Linked DNA regions of Homo sapiens. The protein of the gene in region 4 interacts with the protein of the main gene of each other region in a pairwise test. Each region holds a gene or a part of one and is shown on either strand. Other genes may lie near its edges.

Region 1 (8,065 bases), on a different chromosome or scaffold from region 4:
CATCTTGAGAGTAAAGACCACCACAGGAAGAAAGGGAGGCGCAGGTTCTGGGCCTGGAGTGACCTTAGTCAGCTGACCGTGTGATTCCAGGCTTCGGTTCCTCACTTGTGTAGTGGGAAAAATAATCCTTCCTCTGAGGGTTTGAGGGTGGGGGGTGGACAGCCAAGCAGGTGGTCAGAATGGTGGGTGGAGCCCCTTGCTTCCTATCCGGGCCCTAGCTGTCCTAATCTACCTGGGGCAATCCCTGGAGACTTCTAGGGCCTCAGTTTTCCCATTTTATAGGTAAGGAACCTTCATCCCCTGCCAGACTGTGGCCTTCTTGAGGGCAGGGACTCTGTTTTTAATCTGTAACATTCATTTATTTAACAGTGTTCATTTCTGTGTCGGGCACAGTGCTAAGTGCTGGGTGCTCACTGGTGATGAGGCAGATGAAGGTTACCAAACTTGTGGACAGGAGCCTCATATCAGAGACGTGGACCTCACTGTAGCCTGGTAAGTGAGTGTTATCTGGAGGAAGAGAGGGGATAGATGATGTGTTTGGTTGGAGCGAGTTAATAGATAGCCAGGGGTCTCAGTTTTCTTTGTGAAATGAGGGGCTGGGCTATAACCAGATTAGTTTTAAGGCTGTATTAGCTTGGGCCAGATGCTGGAGGCTTCTGAAAGCCAAGTGGAGGTCTTTATCCTTTTTCTAGAATTGCTGTTAGGAATCTTTATAAATTCTTGAACAGGGAAGGTCAGGCGAAAAGTGGTTGTCAAGGAGAATTTTCTGGACATTCGGAAACACAGTGGACCAAAGCAGTTTTGAAGGTATTGACAGGCATTTTTGAGTTAAGATAGACCTGAAATTAGTCTCTTTCTTGTCCTCATGTGTATTTTTTTTTATTTAAATAAACTTTAAAAAAATAGAGATGGGGGTATTGCTGTTTTGACCAGGCTGGCCTCAAGTAATCCTCCCATTTCAGCTTCGCAAAGTGCTGGGATTACAGGTGTGAGCCACCATATCTGGTCTCACATGTAATTTTAAATCTGCCAAGATCAGCTTCCCCCAGTGTTTCCGATTCTTCCACAGCTGGCTTTTGCCAGGCAGTGAAAAGACAACCCATAAAATAGCCATTCCAGTGGAAGTGTTTTGAAAATAGAGCAATAGTCATGATGTTTACTTCTTTTCTCCTAAAGGCTTAAACTTGAGTGTAAGTTTTATTCATTGTTGACTGGTGATATTGATTTTATCTTGGGTTCGTCCTAAGGAGGCTGGGTATGTCCACTCAGCTCCCCAGTTTTACCCAGTACCTGCTGCTGGACCACAGTCTCCCACCCTCACAGGGGGCTTACGTCGCAGTGGAATGGGTTTTCTCTTTCTCTAGGTCATGGCTTCCAGCTTTTCGAATCTGAGGCTCCAAAGGAGGAAATGACCATTCAGGGATCTTACTCCAGCTTGATTACGGAGACTGAACCTTCATAGGGTGCGCACTTACCAAGGACAGGAAGGTTTCTCTGTTTGAAGGGCTTTAAACTTATAACAAAGAAAATAAAAATGACGACTTCGTCTATCAGACGGCAGATGAAAAACATCGTGAACAATTACTCAGAGGCAGAAATCAAAGTCCGGGAAGCCACCTCCAATGACCCGTGGGGCCCGTCCAGTTCTCTGATGACCGAGATTGCCGACCTGACCTACAACGTGGTGGCCTTCTCGGAGATCATGAGCATGGTGTGGAAGCGGCTGAATGACCATGGCAAGAACTGGCGGCATGTGTACAAGGCGCTGACCCTGCTGGACTACCTCATCAAGACAGGCTCCGAACGTGTGGCCCAGCAGTGCCGGGAGAACATCTTCGCCATCCAGACCCTGAAGGACTTCCAGTACATTGACCGAGATGGCAAGGACCAGGGCATCAATGTGCGTGAGAAGTCAAAGCAACTGGTGGCTCTCCTCAAGGACGAGGAACGGTTGAAGGCTGAGAGGGCCCAGGCTCTCAAAACCAAAGAGCGCATGGCCCAGGTTGCCACTGGCATGGGCAGCAACCAGATCACCTTTGGGCGAGGCTCCAGCCAGCCCAACCTCTCCACCAGCCACTCGGAGCAGGAGTATGGCAAGGCCGGGGGCTCCCCGGCCTCCTACCATGGCTGTGAGTAATGGAAGTGCTTCTCACCCTTTGCCAGAGCAGCAGCAATGGGTGACAGGCAGGGTGGGTGTCTCTGGGCTTAGGGAGTGGTGGCCACTGCAGAGCTCGAACCTGTCCTCAGTACCCAGCTTTTGGTGGCCCAGGCAAATTGTCCTTGGTCTGGATTGAGTTTTGGTTATAAAGGGACTTTTAGTCCCTTGGCTGCTCTGGTTCAGGGATCTCTAACGCCCTTTGCTGCTCTGGGCCTCATTCTGTACATCTGGGCAGACGGTGGGCAGAGGCAGGTCTTTTCTGCTTCCTTGTCAGAATGGGTCTGGCAGCAAAGGAGTTGTCCTGCTGCACATACAATGGGGAGTTGACTCTGGTAGCCAGGAGGAAACAAATGCTCTTTCTTGATAATCTTGTTTCTTTAATCTCATATTAAGTGTTTTTCTGCTGACTGAGCTTCAGGTCTCTTGAATGGCTCAGTATTATTCTACTTCAGCAAAAAAACTTGTACAGGTTGCTAGTGTGAACAAGGCCTCCCTGCCAAACATGCAAATGAGAGTTGCTAGTGATCTGGTTGCATGGCTGGGTCTGCATTGAGTTCTGGTTTTGCATGTTGGATTAATTTGGGTCTTTGCCTTATGGTCAGAAGAGGTTTCAGGGAACAGAGTGGAGTTCAGGGCCTGATGGAAGCTGGTCTCTGTGAGTCACATTGGCATCCTGGCTGTTCATTGGAAGTGGTCCCCCAACAGGTGTTTCTCCATTTTCACAGTGCTATTCCAGCCACAGTGTGGACCCCACACTCAGAGAGACAGGTGGCCCTAGTGGCCTTTGGGGGACAGGGTGAGGATGGAGGTGGGGATTGTAGAAATTATATCTTCTGGCTGCTAAAACAAAAGTGCAGATCCCTAGTAACACTATGTCAGCATAGCAGAAAACTTCTTTTTAAAGGAAGTTGTCTGTAGTTTGACAGACCTCAGTCAACCCTTACTTAGTCAGTGTTCTGTTACCAGACCATTTACTAACATTTCCTGCTTTTGCAGGTTTCGATTTGACATTGTACCGCCACCACTAGCATTTTGAGAAATGTGTTAAATGAGAGATTTGCATATTAAAGTCAGATTTCCTGCTTCTAGGAATTCTGAATTATTACCGAGCTTGGAGCAGGTTAACATATTCTTGTCCCATATGTAGTTGTCATTTTTCTTCTTAGTTTGAACTGTTTTGCTTAAGCAAAGGTTGTGACCTTGGTTAAACCACTTGAAAACAATTTAACCTTAATCTCCAGAAGCCTCAATGCAGGGTTAAATTGCACCAAAACAAATGAAGATTGCCCTTTAAGAAGTGAAATTGTTTTATTTCTCTCAAGGATCCTCTTACCAACCCCCAGAGAGGCTCTCTTTGGATTGAGTTGGTCCCAACCTGCCTTGACTTCCTCTGTCCCTGTGACTGTGGCTGTGGCTTTGATGCAGGCCAAGGGGAGCTGCCATTCTCTTTATGTGCTTTTCATGGTCATTATTCTCAAGAAGCCAGAGGATGCTAAGCAAGGAGCTGAAACAGCTTCATGTTCCATGAACAATTTGTGGAACTTTGCAGATGCAGGGGTTGGAACAGTGGGGATGCAGGAGCCTGGTTTGATCCACCCCTCCTCCTCATACCGAGTCCAGGGCCTGTAGCCATAGGTCCTGCTGGGCTAAATGATACTGCTGCAGTTCCAGCTGTGATGTTTTTGGTTCCCTCAGACCTTACGCTTGAGCTGCATGTTCAGGGTCAGAATGTGGTCAGTGGGCTTTTCACAGCTTCCACCGCAGTGGGCTGCGGGGTTGACCCCGAGTGGCCTTGGCCCGTACCTCCTGCAGGGGCTGCTGCGCACCCTCTAATGGCGTGTCTCTCTGTGTGTGTGTGTGTGTCCCTGCCCCACAGCGCCTGAGGCCTCGCTGTGCCCCCAGCACCGCACAGGGGCCCCGCTGGGTCAGAGTGAGGAGCTGCAGCCACTGAGCCAGCGCCACCCCTTCCTGCCGCACCTGGGGCTGGCCTCCCGCCCAAATGGCGACTGGTCCCAGCCCTGCCTCACTTGTGACCGCGCAGCCCGAGGTGGGACGGCGGTTTGCTTTTTTCCTTACTAGAAATGCTGGGCAGCTTGCTGGGGGTGTGCTTGCCATGCCAGTACAGCCAACTCTCTCCCTGTCTCCTCTGGGCCTGGGGGTTTGGCCTCCAGCAGGCCCAGGAGCCCTTTCTTCCTCTCTCCTGGGAGCTTGTGGCCTGGTCGTGCTCCGCTTCCAGGATCACATGTCACTTGCTAGAAGTTCTGTCAAAGGTTTAGCAGGGGAGCTGTTCTTTGGGTAAGGCATGGGGTGATGGCCCATGCTCTCCCCATGCTCCCATTCCCTGACAAACTGGAGGGGGCTCTGCCACCTATCAGGCCCACCCATGGTGGTGGGTCAGACAACTTGGCTTGTTGGACCGGAAATGTGTGATTTAAACCTCACAACACCAGACAAATATAAGATCCTCAGTGATGGTCATTGGAAGCCATTATCCTTAATGCAGTAATGTATGCCTTGCCCTGAATAAAATGGGATTTTTTTTTTGCTTCCCAATTAACTGCTGTTCTTCCTGAAATCCCTGTTACCATGGAAAACAGAGAGTTAGCTGTACTGTCAATTCTAGGTCACGGTGTTTGAAGATACCTAATTCAATGGGTAACTAAAAATGGGGCTTCTCTTTCTACTAATTAATAATGTATCCTGATCAGAGCCTTACAACTGTAGCAGGTTAAACTGAAAACAGATTTTCACTGTTTCCTACAAGAAAATGCTCTCAGTCTACCATTGGTCCCAAGTGGGTTCTCTGCTACAGGGAAGAAAGGTGTCTGTTCTCTTCTACTCTTCTTACAAGAAGGGGCACGACAGAGAGCTTTTGTGCGACTTCCCTGATAAGGTGACCAGCCTTTATTCAGCCCTGGAAACAGTTACAGTTCATTCATGCCTCATTAATATTACAGCTTGTTTGACTTGGGTATTTGTGTAATAACTATATTTAACTCTAGGATATTTTCCTTCATGTCCCTGTTTTCCCCTAACAGTTTATACAGGATTTTGGCTTCTTCTAAACTGACATTAGAAAACGTAAGGAAGGCCAGCTCTGCACTGTAAAGAATGTAAATGATAAAAGCATTCGTTAAAGGGTCACCCAGAGGCATTGGAGTTACATGCCCATTTCACCCCCCCAGATAGTCAGAGGCTGCTGTTCTCAGCAGGTCCCGCGGAACTCTCCATGGAGTTCCCTTTTTGTTTTTCCCATGTTCTACCCATTTGGTAACTGACAAGGTCTGTTTTGAGCCTTGGTGGCCAATTTTGTGTTACCCTGGCCCTCTAGCTCTCCCGCTGGCAAACTGGCTTTCCTGGGACGTTTGCATGTTAAATACAGCCTGGCAGGCCTGCAGGCTGGCCATCTTCCCCCACTGCGGCTGTCTTTGGCCCTGCCTCTGCACCTTCGCCTGTGCCATTCCGTTCTCTCTGCTTGGATATCGCTCCCACCACCTGCCCCCTGTTCCCCCAACCTGGCAAGTTGCTTAAGGTATCCACCCCGTGTGGATTTATGTTGTCCTTCAGCCCTGATAGGAGTTGAAGATAAAAATGAGTATTTTTTTCTTTGAAGATTTCTCATGCCCCAGATGAGTTTTGAGCAAACAAGTGTTATATGGATTGCATTTCATCCTTTAACTGTTGGGTGTGGCATCCTCTCCACATCTCACTCCCTCCCCGTCAGAGGGTAGGGGGCTGTCGGAGTCCAGGGCAAAGATTCTGGCCATGTTTCTTCTCTGTTCTTTCTTGATGCTTCACAAAGGGTTGAGTATAAGGTAAGTGCTTAATCTATGCACACCAGTGGATTTGTTTGGAGCACACCTTCTTGGAAATCAGCAGTGGGAAGGTCAGAATGATGCCGGCCATTCAGAAAACTGTCAGGTGAGATGCAGGCTGTGATTCAGGAGAGATGTTTGTGAGGGGTGCATTTGGGACTGCAGACCCCACAGAGGCAGAGGAGGCAGACTGCTCAGAAGCCCTCTTCACATGAGAGCAGCCACAGCCGGGAAGGCCTCTTGTGTGACTGGCGATAATCATGAGGATGTCTGAGGAGAGCTTTCTTTCATGTGCCATATGTCATCTCATCCTCCCTGTGCCCCTCCCTCTCTCTCACCTCCCACATAGATCTGTAGATCTGACCTTGGAAGTCTCTTGAATTGTCCATCTTGTTCCATGGCCTCAATTCAGTGCCAGCCTTCTGACCAATTTCCTGCTGTCATTATCTCCCAGTCTCACCTACCCTCCATCTTCATAAAGGATGCCCTGGTCCTGAGTCTCAGCCCCTTTAGATGCCAGGCCCTGCAGGGCCATCCCAGAGCCTTTGACGTTGCAGACCTCAGTTGCTTCCACCAGCTGTGTCCCCTGCCCTCAGTCTGGGGGTCCTCCTGTTCCGGCGGAAGCATTCCAGACCTTCCCAGGCCTGCTGACGTCTGCCTGCAGGCACAGCTCTGGGCTTTCCTTTTGAAGCCTGGTCTACCTGCCCTCTGCTCTGTATTTATTGAGTTCCCATGGGGCACCAGGCACTGAGCACAGAACAGAGCCCCTTGCCCTCGTGGAGCTTATATGGTAATGGGAAAGAAAAACACAATATAAATTATTCAGCATGTTATGTAATGAGCGCTCTGGAAAACAGCAAAACAAAAACAGTCTTGCTTGAGTGTCTTTGGGGAGGTAAGAGAGGGTGGCTTGCAGTATGAATGGATCAAGGATTGAAGGAGTGTGAGGGTGAGCCTTGTGGAGGTTGGAAAGAGCCTTCCAGGCAGAAGGGCAGCTGTGCAAAGGCCCTGAGGTGGGAGTGTGCTCAGGGTGTTTGAGAAAAGGCAGCCAGTGAGGTGGCGATGAGTGACGGAGCATGGCCAGTATGTGGGGGTGGAGCGTGGCAGAGGTGGGCCTGGAGGAGGTGTGGGGCAGGGCCTCTCAACTCTGTCTGGTTGGGAGCATTCCTTGAATTCCTAGTCCATCCAGACGGGTCCTTTTGTGTCCATGTTTAGATGTTGTGCCGATGTCATTGCTAGGAGCTTTTGAAACACTTTCACTGTGCTTACCTTGCAGACCATGCACTCAGTGGCCCGGTGCTGGGCCTTCTGGGTTTATGTCAGAAATTTCTTTGACTTTCACTCACAGTGAGATGGGGGAAGATGAGGGTTAGGAGGATCCCTTGGGGTGTGTATGGGCAAGGTGGGAGCAGGGAGCCAGGTCAGGAGGCCACTGTCCCCATCCAGGTGGGAGATGGTGGGGGTCTGGACCTGGCAGGGCTGCAGAAATCTGGGCAGTAGCCAGGTTCTGGGTATGTTTTTTTTTTTTTTTTTTTTTTTTTTTTGAGACAGAATCTTGCACTGTCACCCAGGCTGGAGTGCAGTGGCACGATCTCCGCTTACTGCAAGCTCTGCCTCCCGGGTTCACGCCATTCTCCTGCCTCAGCCTCCCAAGTAGCTGGGACTACAGGCGCCCGCCACCACGCCCGGCTAATTTTTTGTATTTTTAGTAGAGATGAGGTTTCATCATGTTAGCCAGGATGGTCTTGATCTCCTGACCCCGTGATCCGCCCACCTTGGCCTCCCAAAGTGCTGGGATTACAGGTGTGAGCCACCGCACCTGGACGATTCTGGGTATGTTTTAAAGATGACCTGACAGACCTTGCTAGAGGACTGGGCAGAGTGAGAGGGGAGCTGAGGATGACTCTGAGGGCTGGGAGCAGAGCAGCTGGAGGCAGAGCTGCCATCATCTGAGATGAGGGCGGCTGTGGGTGCAGTAGGTTAGTGGAGGGGTTGAGTTCAGGACACATCGAAGTGTCTCCTAGACACGCAAGTGGAGGTGTCAAGAAGGTCTGAGAAGTCTGGAGTTGGGGGGAGAATTCTGGGCTGCAGG
Region 2 (8,708 bases), about 180 Mb from region 4:
TTTATCCTCTGGGTTCCTTTAACCCTTTTGTACGTCTTTTAGCCCATGACAATGTCATTCTTTGTTAATTGCTTTGTCTCTCAACTAGACTCTGAGGTCTTCAAGGGAAAAGTCTGATGTTTGAGCTTTTTAAATCCTTCATGCCCAGTGTCATTCTTGGAACACAGTAACTGCTTAGAAAATGCTTGATAAAATGAATGAATGTATGAACAGCTGAGCCCTTGCCGCAACAGACGAAAAATAGTATGTAGTTATACCAACGTCCCACTAGAGGGAGCAATGCAAAACTTGATGCCCTCTAACAGCATTTAAGGCTTGTTCTCAACTAAAGTAATACGATAAAATATTTTCCATTTTAAGCTAAACCTAATGTAAATCAATCCCTGATACACCTGATGAAACATATTTATAAATGTTCACTATATTCCAGGTTCTGAGTTTCACAGTGGATACTTCTTATGGGTACAGATGAATGGAAAGGGCAGGGGACATATGTACTCATATTTTGTATTTTTATGTTATGTAGCGTGCATCACAAAGCTTTGCTCTTCGCAGACATAATCTCACTTCTAAAGTCTGCTCCACCTAGAAGCTTATTGCTCCACGTACAATAAATTCTGTGGAATCCGATGACTACACAGCTTCTTAATTTCCTATTGTCCTATATCCGTCATATCCTGTCTTGAACACACACACTTACTGTGGATGAGGTCAGGAAACACAACTCATACAGCCTCATATCTATAATTTCGATCAATTTTGAGTTCAATACTAGTGTTCAATGAATGTGTCTGGCTGACACATGCTCAGCCTGAGACCAGCATCCCCCCACCTGAGTAAATGTGTCCTTGCAGATTCCTTAGCATCCAGCATTGTTCAGTTCAGCATTCAGCACAGCGTATTGTAATTGTCTGTGTACTTACCTACACCCAGACAAGACTGTGAACGCCCTGAGGAGACTAGCATGATCTTATTCTTTCTCCTAGCTTTGGCTGCCAGCACCTAAGTGTTAGGTAAATATTTTTTTAAACAAGTAAGCTAATTCCATAATTTTATAAGGTAGTGAGAGAGTGATTTCTGCCAGCAGTCTCGGGAAGAGGCTGGATTGCTTTGGGTCTGTACACAGACATGCGTGTATACATGTTGTAGAAGAGCTGGTCTTGTATGTAGGAAACTGTCTACTTTAAGGCTACTAGGAAAGCACACACACACACACACACACACACACACAAAATCCTTCCCTAGAATCTTCCCAAATCAGAAGCTGAGGTGTCTGACTTTCACCATTAGAGAGTCATACCTTTGGATATACATGGCTTCCTCTCAACATATCTTGAAACTATGTGACCTTGTTATCAAAAAAAAAATAAATCTCAAACATCCCCAGCATCTGAGATGTATCCTCAAGCAGTGTTCCCCCTAGCTCTGTTGAGAATCTCAGATAGACCCTCTGCTTACTTTCTGTATTTTGCATTATAAAGTGACTGACTTGTGTCTTTAAATATTTATAGCTATATGTCAAGTAAGTACTTTCAAATTATATATATCATGATATTTACAATTAGAATATATCAATTTGTAGAACTCCATGAATTCATAATGATACTAAAAATAAAAACCAAAACTTAATTGGCCACCATTAAATCTAGTGATCAACTTCTTACCTTGAAAATTGGCAAATGAAGGGAAAGAATCAAGCATTTATTCTTTCCTATATAAACTGTACCACTGGGTAACCAAAATTTAATTAAGGTAGAAATTTGTCTTCACAACAAGAATTCAGCAACTAAGTAAAGAATAAATGACAGAATCAGAGTATCACTCCCTGAAATAGAATTATAATGTATTCATGAATTAATGAATTTAGACATTGAGCATCAATGTCTGGTAACATCACAGAAAGAAAGGCAACCAGACATCATATGCCTTCTGATGGAAGTACAAAATACCAAGTATAACAAAGTGTGATCAAACTTCTAGATCCAACAATCAATTCATAAGAAATATAGAGAAGAGCATAACATGTTAAACCAACAAAGTATTTTTAAAAGACAACATTTATGAGACAATCAAAAATGTGAACACTGGCAGTATATATGATTATATTAAACAGTTAACTTCAGTGTTTTTTAGGTTGGATAATGCCATTGAGGCTACATTAAAAAAACCCTTAACTTTTAGAAATGCACACTAAAATATTTACAGATGAAATAATATGATGTTTGGGATTTGCTTCAAAAATAATGCAGAGTAGGGACAGGGCAGTGGTTGGGCATATAAATGAGACAAGATGGCCTTGAGTTGACAGTTGCTGAAGCTGGGCAATAGGTATATGGGAGTTCATTCTCCCATTTTGTCTACTTTTGTATACACTTAAAATGTGCCATATAAAACATTTTTTTCTTTTAAATTATTAACTGATTCCGAAACATTCTGATATTCTTGTCCTAAGGGATAGCTATCCTTCTCCCACTCCTTGAGATCATTATCCTAGAGAATCTTCTGGAAATTGCAAATATCCCAAGGAAAGTAACTTGTTAATTCATTAACAGCTATCTGTAAACTAATACAGAGGGTTATTTCCTGGACTGCCTTTAACACTGAAAATATGGAGTTCCTGTGAGTAGAAGTAAAAGAAAACGTTGGGGGAGGGAAACGGAAGGGCAGAGGGAGGGAAAAAGAAGAACAAATTTTGTCTTCATTACAGTTTTCCTAAGGCCTTCATTTGTTGGCATATACATCATCGTTGTGCAGGTTTTACTAAGAGAACTTTCACGGGGGGGCGGGGCGGGGAGAAATGCTTACATTCTTGGCTCTTAGGTTAAATTTTCACAAAGGATCCCTTTTTATGTTGTCAAAGGATAATATAAATATTTTTAGGACAAAAAGGGCTTCTTTTTCCATGACCCAGTGAGCCAATGATGAGACTGCTTGGGTGGGGCTAGGGTAAATTTTTACCTGAACCTGAGAACCGTCTAGACCTGTACACAAGACCACAAGGGTGTGGAAACCGGGAGAGTAAGAGTCACCTCAAGTGCTTGAGAATATAGCTTTCATAGAAGATCTCTGGAAGAACACCAAGAAAGTGGCTGCCTCTGGGGAGGGAAACTGGGGCACTTGGGATATGTTGGGAGGGGGAAAAAGGATGGCTCTTTATTGCTATAGCCAAGTTATACTGTGGTCAGCACCTTAAAATATATGATGACATCTTGCAAACAGGCTTTTGTTGACCTAAGTGACTGTACCTTTTATCTTGAAATTACATAGAAGACAAATGGCTATTTATGGGTTCCTTGGCTGGCCCAGCTGCTGGGCACCACCCGCTCTGTTTGCATGTGTTCCTCATATTCTCCGGCCCTGTCCTCCCATCCCCACCCCAGCCTCTCCGAATCTAATTAGGAATAGTAGATGGTCACTAGAACTGACAAGAATCGCATTCTAATGGTTTTATTACAACTTCTATGGTGTGACACAGTATCAGGGAAAACCCAAATTTCCCACAGTAGCACTCCAATAGCAGAGCTATTATTTTGCTTCTCATTTCTCTCATTTTGGACGCTCCTGTTTTACCGTAAATATTCAAGTGAATTCTGCGGCTTATGATTTAAGCACTCTGTTTCTATAGAACATGGTAGCATAAGTTACTATTAGGAAAAGGATCTCACCATCTTTATCCTGTGGTCTCAAGCAGCCCTGCACACTTGCAAATCCCTAGAATACTGAGTCTACTTTTATATTTTTGCTTTTTCCTGTTTATTTAGGTGTTATTTAAATACATTAAAATTCACCCATTTTAACTGTACAGTTTAACTTTTCTTATGTATACAAGGTGTAACTACTAGCATGATCAAAATGTAAGATGGTTCCTTTACCTTCAAAAGCTTTTCCATCCCCTTTTGTCCGAGTTCAGTTATGAGACACTGGATTGGGTTTCACAGCCTTTTCTAGCATTGACTGGGGTGATTTCAGTAAAGTCACTTTACCTCTCTAGATGTGTTTCTGCTGTTGTTAAATGGGGAATGCTGGAACAGATTTGTTTGCGGGGACTCTTCCAATACTTTCAGAAAATGCGAGAATAGGGTGAGGGTGGGAATCTCAGACTTGTGGGCCCCATGATTGATATAACACACACAGGCGGCAGACCCTAATGGGTAAAAGCATGTGGTTGCATCAGTTAAGGTTTTTCTCTCTTCTCTTGCTAGCGTGTTATCTTTTCTTTTCTTTTCTTCTTTTTTTTTTTTTTCGAGATGGAGTCTAGCTTTTGTCGCCCAGGCTGGAGTAGGCTGGAGTGCAGTGGAGTGATCTCGGCTCATTGCAACCTCCACCTCCCGGGTTCCAGCGATTCTCCTGCCTCACCTCCTGAGTAGCTGGGATTACAGGCGCCCGCTACCACGCCCGGCTGATTTTTGTACTTTTAGTAGAGACGGGGTTTCACCATGTTTGGCCATGCTGGTCTCGAACTCCTGACCTCAGGTGATCCGCCCATCTCGGCCTCCCAAAGTGTTGAGATTACAGGCGTGAGCCACCGCGCCCGGCCGCTAGCGTGTTATCTTTTCTAAGCATCAGTTTCCTTATCTGCAACACCAGGCTTATTAACAAGACCTATCTGTACACTGTTGTGGTGATGAAGTGAGATGTTCAGGCACCCTTAAATGTTGGTTGATATTTTTATTGCAGTATACTGTAAAGTCACTGCATTCGACTATCTCCGCTACTACACATTTACGCAGACTGATTTCCATAACCAAAACACAAGCACAAAGCTCATGCCCCCGACTCACGCAACCCGGGAAGCCCAGCTGCCCACGTTCTAGGGCTCTGAGAACACTAGTGAACGAACTCCCGTGCTTTCAAAGAGCTGCGGTAGGGGGCAGAACCGGGAACCGGATGTTCTAAGCCTGTCGTACGAGCGCGACGTAAAGCGGATCTGCTTTATGGCACCTTGCTTTCGCCGTAAAGCGCAGTCAGCGAGCCCACGTGCTTGTGTTGACTGGACAACTTCCTGGTGGAAAACCGCGACTCTTGCAAGTGGGCAAACTTGACGTTTTCGCTATGGGCAAACGCGGGAGCCGGAGCCAGAGCCAGCTACTCAACACCCTAACTAAAAAGCAGAAGAAACATCTTCGAGATTTCGGCGAGGAGCATCCCTTCTATGACAGGTCTGAAGGGGCGTGGCAGGGCTCCCCAGTCGCCAGAGATGTATCCTCGAGTTTGGTCCTCTGGTCTCCCAGATAGTGCTGCTCCGGCCTTTTCCCACTATTCCCTGGCTCCCGCTGTGCTCGGCCGGGGAGATTCTGGCGCCATCCCGCCGGGAGATGGAGTGCTTCACGGGCCTTTTTGTTGAGCCTGTAATTTCCTGCTAAGAGGCACGCCCGTTGTGTGGGGGAGGATTTTTTTTTTTTTTTTAAGACGGTGTTTCGCTCTGTCGCCCAGGCTGGAGTGCAATGGCGCGATCTTGGCTCACTGCAACCTCTGTCTCCTCCCGGGTTCAAGCGATGCTCCTGCCTCAGCCTCCCGTGTAGCTGGGATTACAGGCGCCCGCCACCAAGCCCGGCTGATTTTTTGTATTTTTAGTAGAGATGGGGTTTCACCATGTTGGCCAGGCTGGTCTTGAACTCCTGACCTCAGGTGATCCACCCACCTCGGCCTCCCAAAGTGCTGGGATTACAGGCGTGAGCCACCGCGCCCAGCTATGGGGGCGGATTTTTGTGTGGTCAGAGATCTAGGAATTTTTTGTAGACACACATATATATATGTATATATATAATTTTTTTTTTTTAAGACAGAGTCTCGCTTTGTCGCCCAGGCTGGAGTGCAGTGGCGCGATCTCAGCTCACTGCAACCTCCGTCTCCCGGGCTTAAGCGATTCTCCTGCCTCAGCTTCCCGTGTAGCTGGGATTACAGGCGCCCGCCATCACACCCGATCAATTTTTTGTATTTTTAGTTGAGACGGGGTTTCACCATGTTAGCTAGGGTGGTCTCGAACTACTGACCTCGGGTGATCTGCCCGCCTTGGCCTCCCAAAGTGCTGGAATTACAGGCGTGAACCACCGCGCTTGGCCTGTTTTTATAATTATTTTTAACTTACATAAAATGATTGTACATATTTGTGGGATACAGTGTGATATTTTGATAACAATACATGTACCCAATGTGTAATGATCAAATCCGGGTAATTAGCATATTCATCATCTCAAACATCAATTCTTTGCGTTGGGAACATTGAAAATCCGCTCTTCTAGCCATTTGAAAATATACAATAAATTGTTAGTTATAGTCACATCATATGTTGTGTGTGTTTTTAAAGAATTTGTTGGGACATCATTGATCTTTGCAATTACGATAAGGAACTAAGTGTATTAGTAGTTGTGGTTTCTCTAGAAATGTCTAGGTGCAGTTATGATCTCAATGCTCATCCCACTACTTTGGGCTGCTTTGTCATCAGTTAGGGACATTCTTTTTTTCTTTTCTTTTCTTTTTTCTTTTTTTTGAGGCAGGGTCTCACTTCGTTGCCCAGGTTGGAATCCAGTGCTGCAATCCTGGCTCACTGCAGCCACCACCTCCTGGGCTCAAGCGGTCCTCCTGCCTCAGCCTTCCCAGTAGCCGAGACTACAGGTGCACAACACAACTCCGGGCTAATTTTTCTTATTTTTTTGTAGAGACAGGGTCTCCGTATGTTACCCAGGTTGGTCTCAAACTCCTGGGCTCAAGTGATTCTCCCACCTTGGCCTCCTAAAGTGCTGGGATTCCAGATATGAGCCACCGCTCCCAGCTTAGAGGGACATTCTAATTAAGAAATTTGCTAGAAAAACATGAACCCCGAAATCTTTTATTTAGCCAAGTTGTATCCTTCTTTTGGATGAGAGCCTTGTGTGACTCTAGGGTTTGTCATGTGACCTCCTTAAACTTTTCATTTGTCAGTTATTAACCATATTCTTGCCAGCCCTGCCCAAGTGCATGTGTAATTTTTGCATGACTATATCTAAAATGTATTTATAATGTTATATTCTGCCTTTTTCATTTAACATCTCATTTGACCTTTTCCTAATTTCTACATACTAGTAGTTAGAATGTAACATTGCCTGTTTCTTTTTAGGGTTTCCAGAAAGGAAGCAAAGCCACAGATTTGTCAACTGGTAATGCTTTCTACCTTCTTTTTAATAGTTGGTTTTGGGTTGTTCCCACTAAGATTATATCTAATAATAAAGCTTGATTACATTTCTATTCCTTTTGATTTCAGATGCAAGCTATTATTTTGGCAGTATCACTTAATTTTAAATGCAGATGTCTATAAAAATGCCATTGTGATATCTAATACAGAAGCCACAGTTTGAAATTGTCCCAGGAGACTAGCCTATTAGGCCCTGTTACAGAGGCTTATCAGAGGGCTCTTAGTGAATCCTAAGAGGGAATATCTTTTTTGGTTAGCATAAAGGAGTCACAAATACAGTGCAAAATGAACAAAGGGCCTATCATATTACAACAAACTAAAAAAAAAAAAAAAGAAACCTGTTTTCTTTTGTTGTTTTGTAATTATCCTGTTGTTCTATTAAACCTGTGGCCTAATGCCTGGGACATAAATTAAATCTCATAACCTGAAGTTTTATGTTTTAAAAGTGGGGCAGTAGCAGTTTGGAGCATATGAAGAGCTTCTAGAATCATAGCTAGATTAGCAATTTTAAGTAAATTTGAATTTGGGCTTCGTTGAATAGATGTTGGCTTGATGATAGTTTTAGGGTAACAATAAGAACAATATAGTTTTTGTTCTTAAAATTCTCCTTTTCCTTTTAGTCAGAGAGTTCAGATTCTTCAGATTCTGAAAGCGACTCAGAGAGTGAACCACAACAAGTTTCTGGCTACCACAGACTACTTGCTACATTAAAGAATGTTTCTGAGGAAGAAGAGGAAGATGAGGAGGAGGAAGAGGAAGAAGACAGTATTGTAGATGATGCAGAAATGAACGATGAAGATGGTGGTAGCGATGTCAGTGTGGAAGAAGAGATGGCTGCAGAGTCTACTGAAAGTCCAGAGAGTAAGTGTCTTTACTATAGGCTCATCATCTTTGCCAGAACTATAGACAGTTCATCTCATGAGCATGGTACCTTATATACTGTGTGAGTTGGATGAAAGGACATGAATCCAAAATAGGGATTTACCCTTGTTGGGTTTGATTGTATCTTTGAGAATCTGATGGAAACACAGAACCTTCTTAGCACAGCTAGGCAGAAATAACATTTTTGCTTGTAATTTCAGGGACTTCATCAGTACTAGTGAAAGACCTCCTAATACAGAGGAAGGAGAACACAGTTCTGTCTTTGTGACTGTCTGAATTTATTGAAGAGGTTACTGTTCTTCTCTTAGGGAGACCAAGTTTGATGGAAGATAGACATAAATATATATAAAAAATTTCAAACAGTAGATTTGCGATTGCATGGAACAGCTAGATGTAAGGTGTTGAAGAGAGGCAGAGTGGTTGAACACTGCCAGTGTAAATTAGGGAAGGCTTCAGGGACTCTGTGTCACTCAGACTTGAAGGTGACTTTTTTCTTTAACTTCAAAATCACCTTCATTGAGGTATCATTTACATACAGTAAAACGTATCCAATTTAAATATACAGTCTGACAGGTTTTGACAAAGGTATACATCCAAATCAAGATACAGAACATTTCCATTACCTCCAAAAATTTTTCTTATCCTTTTGCAGTCA
Region 3 (8,065 bases), on a different chromosome or scaffold from region 4:
TGCGGATTCCCTCAGCCGCATGAACAATAGCTAGGGACTTCCCAGGTGAGTCCTGAGCAGGTTATGTTCTGTAAATGCTATCAAAGAGAAACTTTTCAGAACAGAAAGAGAATTTCCTTCCAGCGTGAAGTTTCATATGTACTTTCCTCCTGCCAGCTTTATTTTCCTCCCATGGTATTCAGTGGTGTGGAGACTACAAGAGCTGAGAATGCTAACCAACCCTGTTTTCATTGCCCTTATATGCCTCACATTTTTTAGGTGGTGAAAAAAAATGCACATGATCTTTGAGGTCAGCTCTCAGCATCACTCTTTACTAGCAGTACCCTTTGGCAAGTCACCACCACTCTGAGCTTCCATTTCCTCAGGGGCAAATGAAGATGATACCACCTTTCCCATAGGCTGTTATAAGGGTTAGAAATAATTATATAAAGTGCCTAGTATAGTATCTGGCACATAATATGACCTTAGTAAATCATAATGTTTTGTTATTCAAAGCTTTTTTGTGGCCTTGCTCTAATTTCTCAATATAAAATTTAGCAAGTCATATAATATTGTTATTTGAAACTTGCCACATAACATACAAGAGTGAATTTTACCAGGAGACTCTAGATAAGCCCATTCTTTGCCCATGAGTAGTAATAATCACCACAAATAATATTTTTAAATTATTATCAATTTTTTTTTTTTTTGAGACAGAGTCTTGCTTGGTCACCCAGGCTGGAGTGCAGTGGCGCAATCTCAGCTCACTGCAACCTCCGCCTCCCAGGCTCAAGCAATTCTCCTGCCTCAGCCTCCCGAGTAGCTGGGATTACAGGTGCCCACCACCACGCCCAGCTAATTTTTGTATTTTTAGTAGAGATGGGGTTTCACCATGTTGGTCAGGCTGGTCTCGAACTCCTGACCTCAAGTGATCCACCTGCCTTGGCCTCCCACAGTGCTGGGATTACAGGTGTGAGCTACCATGCCCAGCCAAATTATTAAAATTTTGAGGCAGGGTCTCACTCTGTCATCCATGCTGGAATGCAGTGGTGCAATTTAGCTCACTGCAACCTTGAACCCCTAGGCTCAAGTGATCCTCTCGCCTCAGCCTCCCAAGTAGTTGGGACTACAGGCATGTGCCACTACACTTAGCTAATTTTTAAATATTTTGAAGAGATGAGGTCTCCCTATGTTGCCCAGGCTGGTCTTGAACTCCTGGGCTCAAGCGATCCTCCCACTTCAGCCTCCCAAAGTGCTGGGATTACAGGTGTGAGCCACTGCACCTGGCTGACAAATAATATTTTTAAAGAATTCACAATGTGAGAAACACTGTTAAGTACTTTACATGTACTAAATCAATTAAACTTCACTCATATCACAACTCTGTGAGGGAGTTACATTATCCCCATTTTACAGATGAGGAAACCAAGGTTCAGAGGTTAAGTAATTTGCCCATCACACAGCTCTGATCCTGGAGCCTGCATTCTTCATAACTAATCTGTAAAATGTAGGCTGTAGTCAGCATAGTCCAAAGTTTGATGGATCTTGGAAGCAGAAGTGCAAGCAATATCAATAACATATGCAATTTTGCCTTTACCTCAGTAAACAACTCTGGTCCCTTATCCCTTCCAAACAGCAAAAGGGACAAGTTGGGGCTGAACTCTGTCTCATTTCCAGGCTCATGAGGGATTGCAAATGGATAAAGAAGAGTAAAGGCAGACAAGGAGTAAAAGCAGAAAAATATATTTTTTAAAGACCCGAGATAATTCACAAGTAGATAAGCAGGCCCCTGGACATTTAAAAGAGAACTAACTGTATGCTAGGCATAGCTCAGGCAGTCTCTTCCATTTCACCTAGGAAAAGTTAATATCAATTGTATTACAAGTTGGCAAAGCAGCTGATTAAGTACCTAAAATTAATTTAAAGGCCTGGTTTCATCATCTGTTAAAGTCCCATATGTTTAAGTGTGTTGACACTAATCATAATCCTTTTAAAAACTAAAATTTCCATTATTAATGAGATCCAGTGGTTCTAAAACTTTATTGCAGGTTGAGTAACTATATTCCTAAACATATCACTATGAAATTTGGAAATATAAGGGATAAGATGAGCTCCCAAAACCTTCTGGAAAGAAAAAAATGAGATTCAGATTGGCACAAAACTTTTCATTTAAAACAATGGAGAATAGAAGCTACTGGAATAAGGGTTTCAAAAATTCTGAGAGAAAGTGAGTTTGAAATTAAAACTCTGTACTGAACAAAACTATCAACTTAGCATGAGGATCAAAGTAATGTTTATTTCTTAGACACCCTTTATCAGGAGATTACCTAAGGAATATATTCCAGTAAACAAAGATGAAAGCAGGAGTTGTGGGGTTCAATAACTGGAAGAACAAAAGGGTTCCATGAAAGAAAGCCTAGGGTGGCCACAAAGCAGCAGACTTGGATACTTAGAACAGGAGGGCAACAGACTTCCAAGAATATTGTTGTTAAGAATGAAAAGAAGGGTGGGCACAGCTGCTCACACCTGTAATCCCAGCACTTTTGGAGGCTGAGGCAGGAGGATCACTTGAGCCCAGGAGCTCTAGATTAGCCTGGCCAACATGGCAAGACCCTGTCTCTACAAAAAATTTTTTTAAAGTTAGCCTGGCATGGTGACATGGACCTGTGGTCCCAGCTACTCGGGAGGCTGAGGCTGGAGGATCACTTGAGCCCAGGAGGACAAGGCTGCAGTGAGCCATGTTCATGCACACCACTGCATTCCAGCCTGGGCGACAAAGTGAGACTCTGTCTCAAAAACATAAAAGAATGAAAAGAATTCCAAGCAATAGAGAACACGAGTAAAACTGCTAAAAGACATAGGAATATGGGCAAAGAAAAGATATATATCTGCTTCCCATAAGAAAAGAGAAACCCAAACAGAAAAGCCTAGAAAAACAAACAAAAAAAACTCTTCAAAAAGTCCTAGACTTTGATAATTTTGATCTGATGCAGTCCTAAGCCTATTGTTATCTAGGAAAATATTGCTTTCTTACTGATAAATCCTAAATTTCCAACTGCCTTTAAGATATATTTATAAAGAGAAATACCAAATAATACCAAAATCTACATCAATATTACTTTTTTTTTTTTTTTTGAGATGGAGTCTTGCTTTTTTTGAGACTGGAATGCAGTGGTGCGATCTCGGCTCATTGCAATCTCCGCCTCCTGGATTCAAGTGATTTCCCCTGCCTCAGCCTCCCGAGTAGCTGGGATTACAGGCATGTGCCACTATGTCCTGCTAATTTTTGTATTTTTAGTAGGGACGGGGTTTCACCATGTTGGCCAGGCTGGTCTCAAACTCCTGACCTCAGGTGATCCACCCGCCTCAGCCTACCAAAGTGCTGGGATTACAAGCATGAGTCACTGCGCCTGGCAATATTACATTTTTTTAAAACCTAAATTTATAATCCTCAAATCCATCACTATAAAACCTGGCTTAAGATATCTTATATATAAAATGGTGGATTAAATGAATGCTTCATTTACTCAGGACACATTAGAAATACACCTGCTGGACAATATACACACCTGCTAGACAATCCCAAGCAGATAGGAAACAAAAAATTTTTTTAATGTTTCTAAACAAATGAAATACACCTGCACTTACACTCCCTCTTCTTTTCAAACCTCCATAGAAGGTCTGAATACAGTTACAGGAATTAAACAGACATTATAAAAAAAAAAAAAAAGTTCTGCGGAAACAGCACTAACTTACCCAAAACAATTCTAAAGTTCTCACCATCCATGTGTAATACCCAAGTATTGGTGGTTTTTGATCTGTCCTCCATATACTTCTTGAGACTTTTCCCATTAATTTCCAGAGTATATTCATAAGCAAAACCACTGATAGCGTCTATATTTATGGTCGCTTTTGTCTTTGCAGCTCCAACATAGAATGTTTCTTTGCCCACTAATTTGAACATCCACTCTTTTCTTATCTCTTCCTACATAATAAAACAGAAAAATATGAAACAAATGGAAGAAAAATTGATATCTAATTTTAGAAATAACGTAAAGTGAACAAAGGCAATGCCATTTAGATATAATTTCATTGCCGGGAGTGGTGGCTCATGCCTGTAATCCCAGCGCTTTGGGAGGCTGAGGCGGGCGGATCATGAGGTCAGGAGTTTGAGACCAGCCTGGCCAACAGTGAAACCCCGTCTCTACTAAAAATACAAAAAATCAGCAGGGCGTAATGGCAGGTGCCTGTAATCCCAGCTACTTGAGAGGCTGAGGCAGGAGAATAGCTTAAACACAGAAGGTGGAGGTTGTGGTGAGCTGAGACTGCGCCACTGCACTCCAGCCTGGGTGACACAGCGAGACTCCGTCTCAAAAAAAAGAAAAAAAAAAGATGTAATTTTATTAATTTATGATGCCAAGGTTTTAGAAAATAAAAGCATTTTAAGTTTAAATATTACACGCTATATTCCATGAATTCTATAACTATGTTTGCTTTACACAGCAAAATGATACAGATCAAAAACATGACTACAAGAAAAAAAAGCCCTGAATTCACATATGAAGATGCTACTTTAACAAAATCAAGTTTCTCTATATATCATATTTTACAAAGTAACATATTTTCTTCCTACCTTTCCATCTACATATACTACTCGTTTGCCTGATGTAGTCCCATGTTCAAATTCGATCTTGTGGACTCCGTCACTTAAAGCAACATCCCAAACAGCTACGAGATCTGTCATTTTTTCTAGGCTGTAAGGAGGGCTAAAGGAATAAAATAAAGCAATTATAGTAGGCCAAAATACTAATTAAATAACCAATTAATCCTTCCAAGATGAAAATATTAGATTAAAACCTCTAAAATGTCAAAATATTAAAGTGACAGTACCTAAGAAATTCTACTCACAGTACATGTAACTATTTTCTCCCTCTTATTCACTCTTCCTTTAAGATACAACTACTATATATGGGTACATAGTCCGATTACTTCTAAAAAAAAGCCACCTTAATATTAATAGGATTAAGAATGCATCAGTTTATCCTGGTCAGTATTCTAGGTTAGGCTACAGTATAGTGCATGGAAAGGTCAGTAAAAAGTCTTTATTCTTCTCCCACCAGCTCCCATGTAAAAACCATGGTAATTAATTTTATTTCTCTTTTTCAGGTCTAATCACTCTAAAACAAGAACTCTCCAAACCTCCCATACTTAAACTCGCACTAGGGATTTGTTTTAACAAAAAGGTTCTAATTTATTATACTAAGACAGAAAAAAGTCATGGAAGAAATGCCCTATAATAAAGATAAAAATAATTTTTAAATGTTATGAAAAATATTCTTGGCATTATTACAGGAAATCTTATTTTAAAAAAATAAAGGACTTTGGGCTGGGTGCAGGGGCTCATGCCTGTAATCCTAGCACTTTGGGAGACTGAGGTGGGCAGATTACTTGAGCCCAGGAGTTCCAGACCAGCCTGGACAACATGGTGAAACCCTGTCTCTACAAACATATTAGTCACACGTGATGGCGCATGCCTGGAGTCCCAGCTACTTGGGATGCTGAGGTAAGAGAGCCATCTTAGCCCAGGAGGTTGAGGCTGCAGTGAGCCATGATTGCACCACCACGTTCCAGCCCGGGTGAAAGAGTGAGACTGTCTCAAAAATAAGAAATAAATAAAGGATTTTGGTTTGTCAGAGATTTCTGGCATATACTTCAACATATATTTTTGATGTTAATATATCCTATGTGAATGACATAATACATAATATCTAATTAATATTTTGATATTGGTGTATCTTTTTAGCTTTGACAGAAGTATCATTTATTACAGTAATAATAATCATAGCTAACAGCTATTAAGTGATAACTATGTATCAGTCATTGTTCTAAGAGCTTTAAATATATTAACTCATAGAATCACCATGAGATGGCTACTATTAGTATCCTTATTTTACAGATGAGGCTTAGAGAGGCTAAGGGTTTACCTAAGGTCACAATGACATTAAGTGGCAGAGGTAGGATTTAAACCTAGGATTCTGGCTCCAAAGCCTGTTCTCTTAACTACATCTTCCTCTTTGTTCGCCCTAATCTCCTCTGTACGCTCTAAACTGAAGATGGTAAATGGATTTTATATCATTTTGAAGTGGTTGCCAAGAACTCTGTGCTGACAGAAATGAGAAGACCTCACATCAAGGCTCTACTGAAATGGATGCCATGTTTCTAGTGGCTACCTCCACGCCAGGTATTTACTACTCCTGCTTTAAATCACACAAAAGCAGAACCATGTATTCTGCAATTTTACAAAATGTATTCTTAACAGAGTATCTTGGATAAATCACTCTTTTGAATGATAACAATCTTGAAAATGTCAAAGGCTAGTTTACTGCAATATAAGACATTTACCTTTCATCATCTTCAAAGATAGGACTGTCATCTCCAGATGCCATGGTTGGCAAAAACAGTCTTTAATCCAATTAGCAGCCAGGAAAGAAAAAAGCAGAATTGCAGCAAAGAAAGATTGAAAGCAACAATGATGACATCTACAAAGGGTTTTTCTAATTTTGCAATCCATTTATTAAATTACATGGAGTTTCAGATGAAACAGCTTCTACATAAAATAGAATTGCAATCTTTAATTCTCAGAGAAAGATGTTACATCATGCAAATCAGTCAGTCATATTTTTCCCTGTTATGGATTTATAATTTCTTAAAGGTATACTTTATCAAAACTAAAGAACAAACTCTCCTTTGTTGCAAGTGTTATAGCATATCAGAGCTGCAAGAGACCTAAGAGATCCTCTGGGTCCTATGCTTTTCAAGTTGAAGCGTAAGAAGCCCCAAGGCTATGAGTCAGGGAATACATCAAACTCCAGGATAAACACAATGTATCTTCTGGGAGCATCAATGTTAAAGTGGCAACTAATTTAAAATGTAATCTTTATTTTAGAAGGCTACACTATGGTGGAACATAACTTTCAAAATCTGTTTAGATAACTTCAAAGAACTAATGAGTTTGCAAGAAGCAGACAGGGATATGCTGGTCTGCTCTCAAAGAGTGAACTTAATTTATCCCCTTACTTAAGCCCATTTAATTTACTAGTGCCAATGATGAATCCACAAAAGTTATGTGCCTTGCTCATGTAACTGGCAGGATCCAACCCAGAACTAGAGCCCAGTACTGTACTATGCAATGAACTAAACAGTAACTGGGCTGCAGTGTTAATTAAGCTGTACTAAAATCAGAAGTGCACATAAATTCACATGCATAGGAAACCCTCACATTTGAAGATTTGGGATTAACAGTTTCACTCCTGCCAAAGTATCCTAAATTCAACTATTTTTTGCTTCCAAGATCTATCCTAGTTTAGCCCTTTCCTTAATTAGTGCCTGTTTCCTACAGATGCTCAAGAATGCTCTCTCCTGGTTAAAAATGGGAGACTGCTAACCCTTTCTGTCTGGAAACAGCCAGAAGTCACAAATTATTAAAAAGTTTTTTGTTTGTTTTTGAGACAAAGCCTCACTCTGTCCCCCAAGCTGGAGTGCAGTGGCATGATCTTGGCTCACTGCAACTTCTGCCTCCTGGGTTCAGGCAATTCTCATGTCTCAGCCTCTTGAGTAGCTGGGACTACAACTGCATGCCACCACATCCGGCTAATTTTTTGTATTTTTAGTAGAGATGGGGTTTTGCCATGTTGGTCAGGCTGGTCTCGAACTCCTGGTCTCAAGTGATCCACCTGCCTCGGCCTCCCAAAGTGCTGGGATTACAGGCATGAGCCACCACATACCCAGCCAAAAAGATATTAAAGAAGAAATTAGCACTCATAAAAGCAATCCAACGGGCCAGAAAAGCCAAGGATTTTAGAATAAAAACTAGATAAATATTTGTACCTAAAATAAATCTCTCTTTTATAAAATTAGCACCACACAAATTTGTGAACTTTTCTACTCTTAAGGATTATCCCCTATGAAACCAGAGGGTATCCTACAACAATAAAAACAAAAAGAATACATAGCAATATAATAAGCCAGCCAGGCATGGTGGCATGCACCTGTAGTCCCAGCTACTGGGGGAGGCTAAGGTGGGAGG
Region 4 (7,210 bases):
CCTGCCCCAGCCTCACCCCTTGGGGTATAGAAGTCTCCTAAGAGTCAGGCCACACCCCCGCCTAAGAGAGTGGCAGGCCCTGCCCCTAGGCCGGCCCAGTGAGTGGCAGGCCCTGTACCCATCCTGTCCCCTGGGCTTCAAGCAGCACAGGTCCGCTCGCCAGGGCTGGCATTCACTGGGTCAGGATTTCCTCCAATCTGCAGGCTTATCTTTGTCTACTGGTCTCAGACCCACGGAGAGCCCCCTTGTCTCCCTCCTAGGGTGCCCTCCCACTCATCAGTGGCACCACAAGTGGCTCACATTGTCCTACATAAGCTACAAGTCTGAAGCTGAGCCCTTATACCTGCTTGAGGGTACCCCCCGCCCCGCACCAGTCCTTCTGCCCTGAGCCTCGGTTGCTGCCTGTTGCTGGTCTCAAATCACCCAGGCGCCTTAGATATCATGCCTAGGTTCCCCCAGCACTCTGAACTGCTGCTGTTCATGCCTGGGCACTGTGCATCGCTCTTCTGCCCCTCCACTGTCACACCTGAGTGTGATCCACATCCCACTGTCATAGGGGTGGCCCACCTATGTCTGATTAGGTTCCTCTTCTCAATCTAGCTCTTCCCCCTACCACACACTCCTCCTACAGCTCCCTCCCACTCCCACCTCCCGACCCCACTGTGGGAATTGCCCACATTCCACCAGGCAGGGGCCCCCTGGTTCTGACAAGCTGCCTGTGGCCAGTCAGACCACAGGGTGAAACATCCAGCCACCAACTCAGTGGCCGTCCTCTCTTGGTTCCCCGTCTTCTATGTCCCTGGACAGAGGATTGTGTTTCCATTGACCCCTCTATTCACAAGGCTAATTACTTCCATACAGCCCTCTAAGTCCAAAGGACAGAAACAAAGAGGGTAAAATGCAAAACTAAACTTACTCCTGGCAAAGATCATGGAAGGAACTTGATATAGGTCACTGGTCCAGTGGGTATATGAACAGAGGCACAGTTCAGGGACTGGCTGTAGCTCCCTGTTGGGGACAGTCCCCATCATTGAGGCATCTTATTTCTGCACATCAGTGCAGCCAACAGAGGCAACTGAAGTAGGGAGAATGCTCCAGCCAAGCATAACCATGTCCCCACTTCGCCAGTAAAGGAAAGAGCCAGAGAGCTGGATGTCCAAGACCCCAAGGAACAGAGGCAATTCCTTCTTCCCACTTTTCCTCATCTCTGTCTTGCTGTTGCCTGGAAATGGTCATTCAGGCTAAGGAAAGCCAATCCCAGTTTCCTCCTTCTCCTCTGGCCAGTTATCAGCTCCCTCAGGGAGCAGAGAGTAAACAGAGGTCTTAACAAGGGTTCATGAAATTTTTAGTCAGACCTGCTAAGCCGGTGTGGCCAGCCCAGAGCCAGGTGATGCAGCCCATGCCACCTGCCCAACACAAACATGGCCAGTTTAATTTGGTGAGTCTTTCCGGAAATGTGCCACAAGCCAGGCCCTGGGCTGGGCTCTGGACACACAAGGGAGAGCCCCATTAGACAGTACACGGTCCTTGCCCTCTTGGTGCAAATGGGGAAATAGGGCAAAATGTGATCACAGAAGATAATACCCCACGCCAGTATCAGGGCACAAATAAAGCTAAAGAATTTCAGGCCAGGTGCAGTGGCTCACACCTATAATCCCAGCACTGTGAGAGGCTGAGGCAGCAGGATCACTTGAGGCCAGGAGTTCGAGACCAGCCTGGCCAACATTGCGAAACCTCATCTCTATGAAAAATTTAAAAATTAGCTGCGCATAGTGATGCATGCCTATAGTCTCAGCTACTCAAGAGGCTGAAGCAGGAGGATCACTTAAGCCTAGGAGTTGGAGGCTCCAATGAGCTATGATGACACTACTGCACTCCAGCCTGGGTGGCAGAGTGAGACCCTGTCTGTATTTTTTTTTTTTAAAAGAATCCAGCACAGTGGCTCATGCCTGTAATCCCAGAACTTTGGGAGGCCGAGGTGGGCAGATCACTTGAGGCCAGGAGTTCAAGACCAGCCTGGCCAACATGACGAAACCCTGTCTCTACTAAAAATACAAAAAATTAGCCAGGCGTGGTGGCGCGTGCCTATAATCCCAACTACTCGAGAGGCTGAGGCATGAGAATCACTTGAACCTGGGAGGTGGAGGTTGCAGTGGGCCAAGATCATGCCACTGCATTCCCGCCTGGGGGATAAAGCAAGACTCTGTCTCCAATAAATAAATAAGAAAAAGAAGAGGCAAAAGGAATTTCAGAGGACAGAACGAGCACATCTGCTGGGTGACCAGGAAGGCTTCCCAAAGGGTGGGCCTTTTGAATTGAGCCTCTGGGGGTGGTTGCAACAAGCAGAGAGGAGGAGGTGGAGGGAACCGTGTAAGCAGAGGCTTTGGACCTAAGTGGGGTAGGGGGCAGAAGTGAGAGGTTGGCTGGGAGAAAGGACTGGCGCTAGATTGCAGACGACCTTGGTTAGTCCTGGCTCTGCCAATATTTGCAGGATGACCTAAGTTTGTCATGTCTCCCCTCTGGGTCTCAGTTTCCTCATCTGTCAAATGGAAGAGTTGGCCTAGAATTCATGGTTTTCAATCTTTTCAGACCCATTGTCTACTTTTCATAACAAATCATGTGTAATATCTCAAAGATAATATAACCTTTTTATAATTTCAAGTGTAACCTTTTCACAATTTCAAGTGTTGTGTGTGTATATGTACATAGATACATACTCTGACTATTAATATGAAGGAAAATAGAAGGAAATTATTAATAATAAAATATTTTGTATGTCAACATGTAGATGCTCACCCACAATCACACTAGAAAACCTAACAAAGCAGCCAGGTCCTCTCGTCATAGGTAAAACACCATCCTGCCTCAAATGCCTATACAGGTAGGTTGTCTCAGTCAGTGGTGTTGCCCTTAGGGATGTATTTTCCAACAAAGCAAACAGTTCTTAGGGAAGTTCCAAACAAAACAAATGCAGCCTTCCCTTCATTTACACAGTGGTTGCATTCTGAAATATTCAGTATATATTAAAACTGCAAAAAAAATTTCATGTTTATACATGAAATGGAGTTAGGTTATAGTTTCTTATCCTTATAAAAAAGATTTTTCATCCACATGAATGTCTGCTGGGACACGTGAAAATCACTGGGAGTCGGGGAAGGTGTGGGGCAGAACTTCCCTTTGCAGAACTGTCCTGTCCATTTCGTGGTCTTTAGCATCCCTGGATCCCAGCTGTTGTTAAGACAACCTGAACACACTCACCAATTTCCCCATTCCCCCTAGGGGGCAGTAGCAACTGGATCATCTGGAAGCTCCCTTCCAGCTCTAAAATTCCCCAATTCTAGGCCTCATTCTGGTTAATTCAACAAACATTTGCCAGTGCCCACTATGTGCTCCGCCCTGGGCATCAGGCAGTGAACAAGCAGCTGTAGCCCCTGCTCCCCTGCAGACAATATCTGGAAGGACCTTAACCACCACCCTTCCATTCTACAGAGGAGGAAGATGAGGCCCAGAGAGGGCAGACTTGTATTCAAGGTCACACAGCAGGTCAGAGGCCTCCTGCGTACCAACCAGAACTCTGCCCTCAGGAAGGCACTGCATGGTGGGTCCACAGCCTTCTCCCCACTCATCTTCTCTCCCTCCTCCAACCCCCACAGTGCCAGCCGCCCTAACCCTGGACCCGGGCACAGCCCACCAGCGCCTGATCCTGTCGGACGACTGCACCATTGTGGCTTACGGCAACTTGCACCCACAGCCACTGCAGGACTCGCCAAAGCGCTTCGATGTGGAGGTGTCGGTGCTGGGTTCTGAAGCCTTCAGTAGTGGCGTCCACTACTGGGAGGTGGTGGTGGCGGAGAAGACCCAGTGGGTGATCGGGCTGGCACACGAAGCCGCAAGCCGCAAGGGCAGCATCCAGATCCAGCCCAGCCGCGGCTTCTACTGCATCGTGATGCACGATGGCAACCAGTACAGCGCCTGCACGGAGCCCTGGACGCGGCTTAACGTCCGGGACAAGCTTGACAAGGTGGGTGTCTTCCTGGACTATGACCAAGGCTTGCTCATCTTCTACAATGCTGATGACATGTCCTGGCTCTACACCTTCCGCGAGAAGTTCCCTGGCAAGCTCTGCTCTTACTTCAGCCCTGGCCAGAGCCACGCCAATGGCAAGAACGTTCAGCCGCTGCGGATCAACACCGTCCGCATCTAGTCCAGGCAGAAGGAGACCACAACCTCCTGGGACCACTGCCACCTGCAAGAGCCCTGCCCAGGAGATAGAAGACCTGGACTCCAGCCCACCGTGGCCACTGGAGACCTCAGGCCAGTTGTTTACCCTCCAGCCTCCAGTCTGTAAAATGGAGGTTGCATTCCCTACTTCCTAAACTCTCTTCCAGCATCGATGTTCTGTAGCTCTGACCTTGATAGGGATACAGCTTTGATCCAAGGATGTGACATGGCTTCTCCTCAGGGCAACCCCTGCCCAACCCTCATCCCCATCTTCTCAGGGGCAGGGGACTACCTTCCAGTGTCTCCCTCCAGCCCAGCCCTGACCTCAGGAAGTGTCAGAGCATGGCCAGTAGTTGGCAGCCCGAAAGACACACAGCACCCTCTTATGTCCCATGGCCTAAGACTTACCCCTGACCAAGCTAGTGATGGGCCATTTACCCTTGACCCCAGTCCACAGTGGTCACAGGTAGTACCTGGTCCTAGGGTTGCCTGAGAGCCAACCTCTCCTGCCACCCCCACACCAAGAACTATATGGTTCCTACTTCTCCCACTGATCTGCTGGTCAGTGATGATGCTGTGGCCTGTGGAAGGCACCTGGTAGTTGAGTCCACACATTATAGTCATGTGCCACCACCTTCCTGCCCACAGGCCGAGGGACAGGGTGAGGGTATACCCAAAGCTGATGCAGAGCCCATTAGCCTAAAAGCAACTGCAGGACAAGCCTCCCTGGATGATCGAGGTCCCCAGTAGCTCTGAACAAGAGTCCAGCCAACCCTCTTCAGCCAGGCCTCTGTGACCTGCTAGGGTGCAGGAGGCTTCCAGAAGCAGTTGTTGTAATTAGGACCCAAGCACTGGGAGGGGCTGTTGGCTGGACCCCTTGTCAGACTTGGCATCTATCTCAGTTAGGATCCTGCTGCAGAAAACAAGAGCCACTTGTAGCTGGTTTAATTAGACAAGGATTTACTACCTGGCCCCTGGTGGCTTGCAAAATTGTTGGAAGAGCTGGAGAAGCAGACTCTGCTGAATTTCCAGGAACTCCCAGCGCCAGATTCATCATGTCTGTTGTGACCAGGAAAGCTGCCCCCATCTGCAGGAAGCCACTATGCCAGAAAGCTGCTGACTGCAGAACTAGGCTCCCTCTGCCACGGTCCGTGCCAGCCAATAGATGTCCTGAGGCCTGCCCCTCTCCCACTTCACTCAGTTCCCAAATCTAAATTTTTACAAGAGATTCTGTTTGGGGGAACTTAAGTCAGATCCAGAACCTTGGCTGCAAGGGAGTCTGGGAAATGTCATTTCCCTAGAAGGAAGTTAGGGTGGGTGGAGCAAGCCCCACCTGCGTTTTTCTGCCACAGCATCCAATCGTGAAGAACTCGGGAGAGGGTGGAGTCCACATCTAGGGTTGTCCTGCCCCTTGGCTCTATCCCTGCCCAGAGGTGGGAACTGGAGGAGTGGGCTGCAAGACTGAGCCTAAATGTCTCCCCGGCCTTGACTTTTCTTTCTAGTCCTGGGGCCTAGATTCTGCACTTGGGGTCTCTGACACAACACACCATCCCAAAGTAGCCGGAAGAGCTAAACACAGGGGGTTCTTAAAATGGCTGCCCCCGCCACCCGGGCCTCCCTTGGGCAAAAGGAATTGTCAGCCCTACCCCAACCCTTCAACTACCAGAATCTGGGCCACCCCAGCAGTATTTTTATTTAAAATGTTGCCCATTTTATGAGTTATGATCAATTTGTATTAAATTAAAGTTACAGATGTCAGTAGCCAGTTCCATTCATTTTGACAAACACACAGGCCCACCCAGCTCTGTCCCAGGCAGTGCACACACATGAGCATAGCTAATCCACAAAGCAGCCCGGCTGGGTAAATGGTATTATGCTCATTTTACAGAGGAGGAAAATTGAGGTTCAGAGAGAAGCCAAGACTTACCTGGGGTCCCATATCCCATGCTGGCAAGTGCCACACCACAAACCTGTCCAAAAACTTACCAGCCAGGGAAGGCTGTCAGTCTTTACCTGGAGGAGAGGTGGTGGTAGTCTTGGGAGCAGGCAGCAGGCAGCTCATGGGGCAGTGGCAAGAGCCTGGTCTCGGGAACCACACAGACCTCAGCTCAAATCCAGGCTCCATCACTGTGTGACTTTAGAAAAATGACCACCCTCTCTGGGACTCAGTTTTCCCACATGGAAGATGAGGATACCAATTTCACATAATTTATTGGTAAGCTGTAAAGTGCAGTGCACTTAAGGAGGCCCTACCCTATCCCCCCAGCTGCCTCCCAGAGTCAGTGCCTGGAGCTGTATGGGTTTCCTGAACCTCTGGGCTGGCTCTGACCCAAGAAGTCTGTCTTTCTCCTTATGGGCTGTGACGGGTATGGAACCACCTAGACCAGGACCATCCTGAGGTCCATCCCACCTCTGACTGATGAGGAAGCATCCTGGCTGGGAGTTAGGACAGGCTCTGCATGTGGACACACAGGCTGTGCACACTTAAGTGGAAAAGACTGTCGACTAAAGAAGAAATATCAAGCTTTTAAAGAATTAAAGTTCACTTTACTTAGAAGTCTTACTGAGTACTATAGACAGGCCTAGAGCCCAGCAGCGGCCCTTTAGAGAGGTTCTATCAGTCGGGCCCAGGACAGTATTTTAGCCCACTGCTTATATACAGGTGGTGGAGGTTTAGTACACGCAAAATCACATCACACTTGCTCAGAAGTAACATTAAAGCCACCGGGCGCAGTGGCTCATGCCTGTAATCCCAACACTTTGGGAGGCCAAGGCAGGCGGATCACCTGAGGTTGGGAGTTCAAAACCGCCCTGACCAACGTGGAGAAACCCCGTCTCTACTAAAAAATACAAAATTAGCCGGGTGTGGTGGCACATGCCTGTAATCCCAGCTGCTCGGGAGGCTGAGGCAGGAGAATCTCTTGAACCCGGGAGGCGGAGGTTGCGGTGAGCTGGAGATCGCGCCATTGCACTCCAGCCTGGGCAAAGA

Evidence for each region.
Region 1: the proteins of TRIM62 (region 4) and EPN2 interact in binary tests that used the Homo sapiens proteins (3 or more experiments, as listed by UniProt).
Region 2: the proteins of TRIM62 (region 4) and UTP25 interact in binary tests that used the Homo sapiens proteins (3 or more experiments, as listed by UniProt).
Region 3: the proteins of TRIM62 (region 4) and FAIM interact in binary tests that used the Homo sapiens proteins (3 or more experiments, as listed by UniProt).

Annotation. Positions count from the first base shown.
Region 1 is NC_000017.11:19,281,586-19,289,650, forward strand, and holds part of EPN2 (epsin-2), read left to right. Parts: intron 1-369; 5' UTR 370-492; intron 493-1,364; 5' UTR 1,365-1,534; coding exon 1,535-2,129; intron 2,130-4,034; coding exon 4,035-4,205; intron 4,206-8,065. UniProt on the Homo sapiens protein: Plays a role in the formation of clathrin-coated invaginations and endocytosis.
Region 2 is NC_000001.11:209,823,012-209,831,719, forward strand, and holds the start of UTP25 (U3 small nucleolar RNA-associated protein 25 homolog), read left to right. Parts: upstream 1-4,960; 5' UTR 4,961-5,052; coding exon 5,053-5,159; intron 5,160-7,096; coding exon 7,097-7,136; intron 7,137-7,791; coding exon 7,792-8,032; intron 8,033-8,708. UniProt on the Homo sapiens protein: Component of the ribosomal small subunit processome for the biogenesis of ribosomes, functions in pre-ribosomal RNA (pre-rRNA) processing. Essential for embryonic development in part through the regulation of p53 pathway.
Region 3 is NC_000003.12:138,618,087-138,626,151, reverse strand, and holds part of FAIM (fas apoptotic inhibitory molecule 1), read right to left. Parts: intron 6,442-8,065; coding exon of another isoform or gene 6,426-6,441; coding exon 6,382-6,425; intron 4,746-6,381; coding exon 4,613-4,745; intron 3,965-4,612; coding exon 3,736-3,964; intron 1-3,735. UniProt on the Homo sapiens protein: Plays a role as an inducible effector molecule that mediates Fas resistance produced by surface Ig engagement in B cells.
Region 4 is NC_000001.11:33,144,171-33,151,380, reverse strand, and holds the end of TRIM62 (E3 ubiquitin-protein ligase TRIM62), read left to right. Parts: intron 1-3,653; coding exon 3,654-4,204; 3' UTR 4,205-5,982; downstream 5,983-7,210. UniProt on the Homo sapiens protein: E3 ubiquitin ligase that plays a role in antifungal immunity by mediating 'Lys-27'-linked ubiquitination of CARD9 downstream of C-type lectin receptors; leading to CARD9 activation, followed by activation of NF-kappa-B and MAP kinase p38 pathways.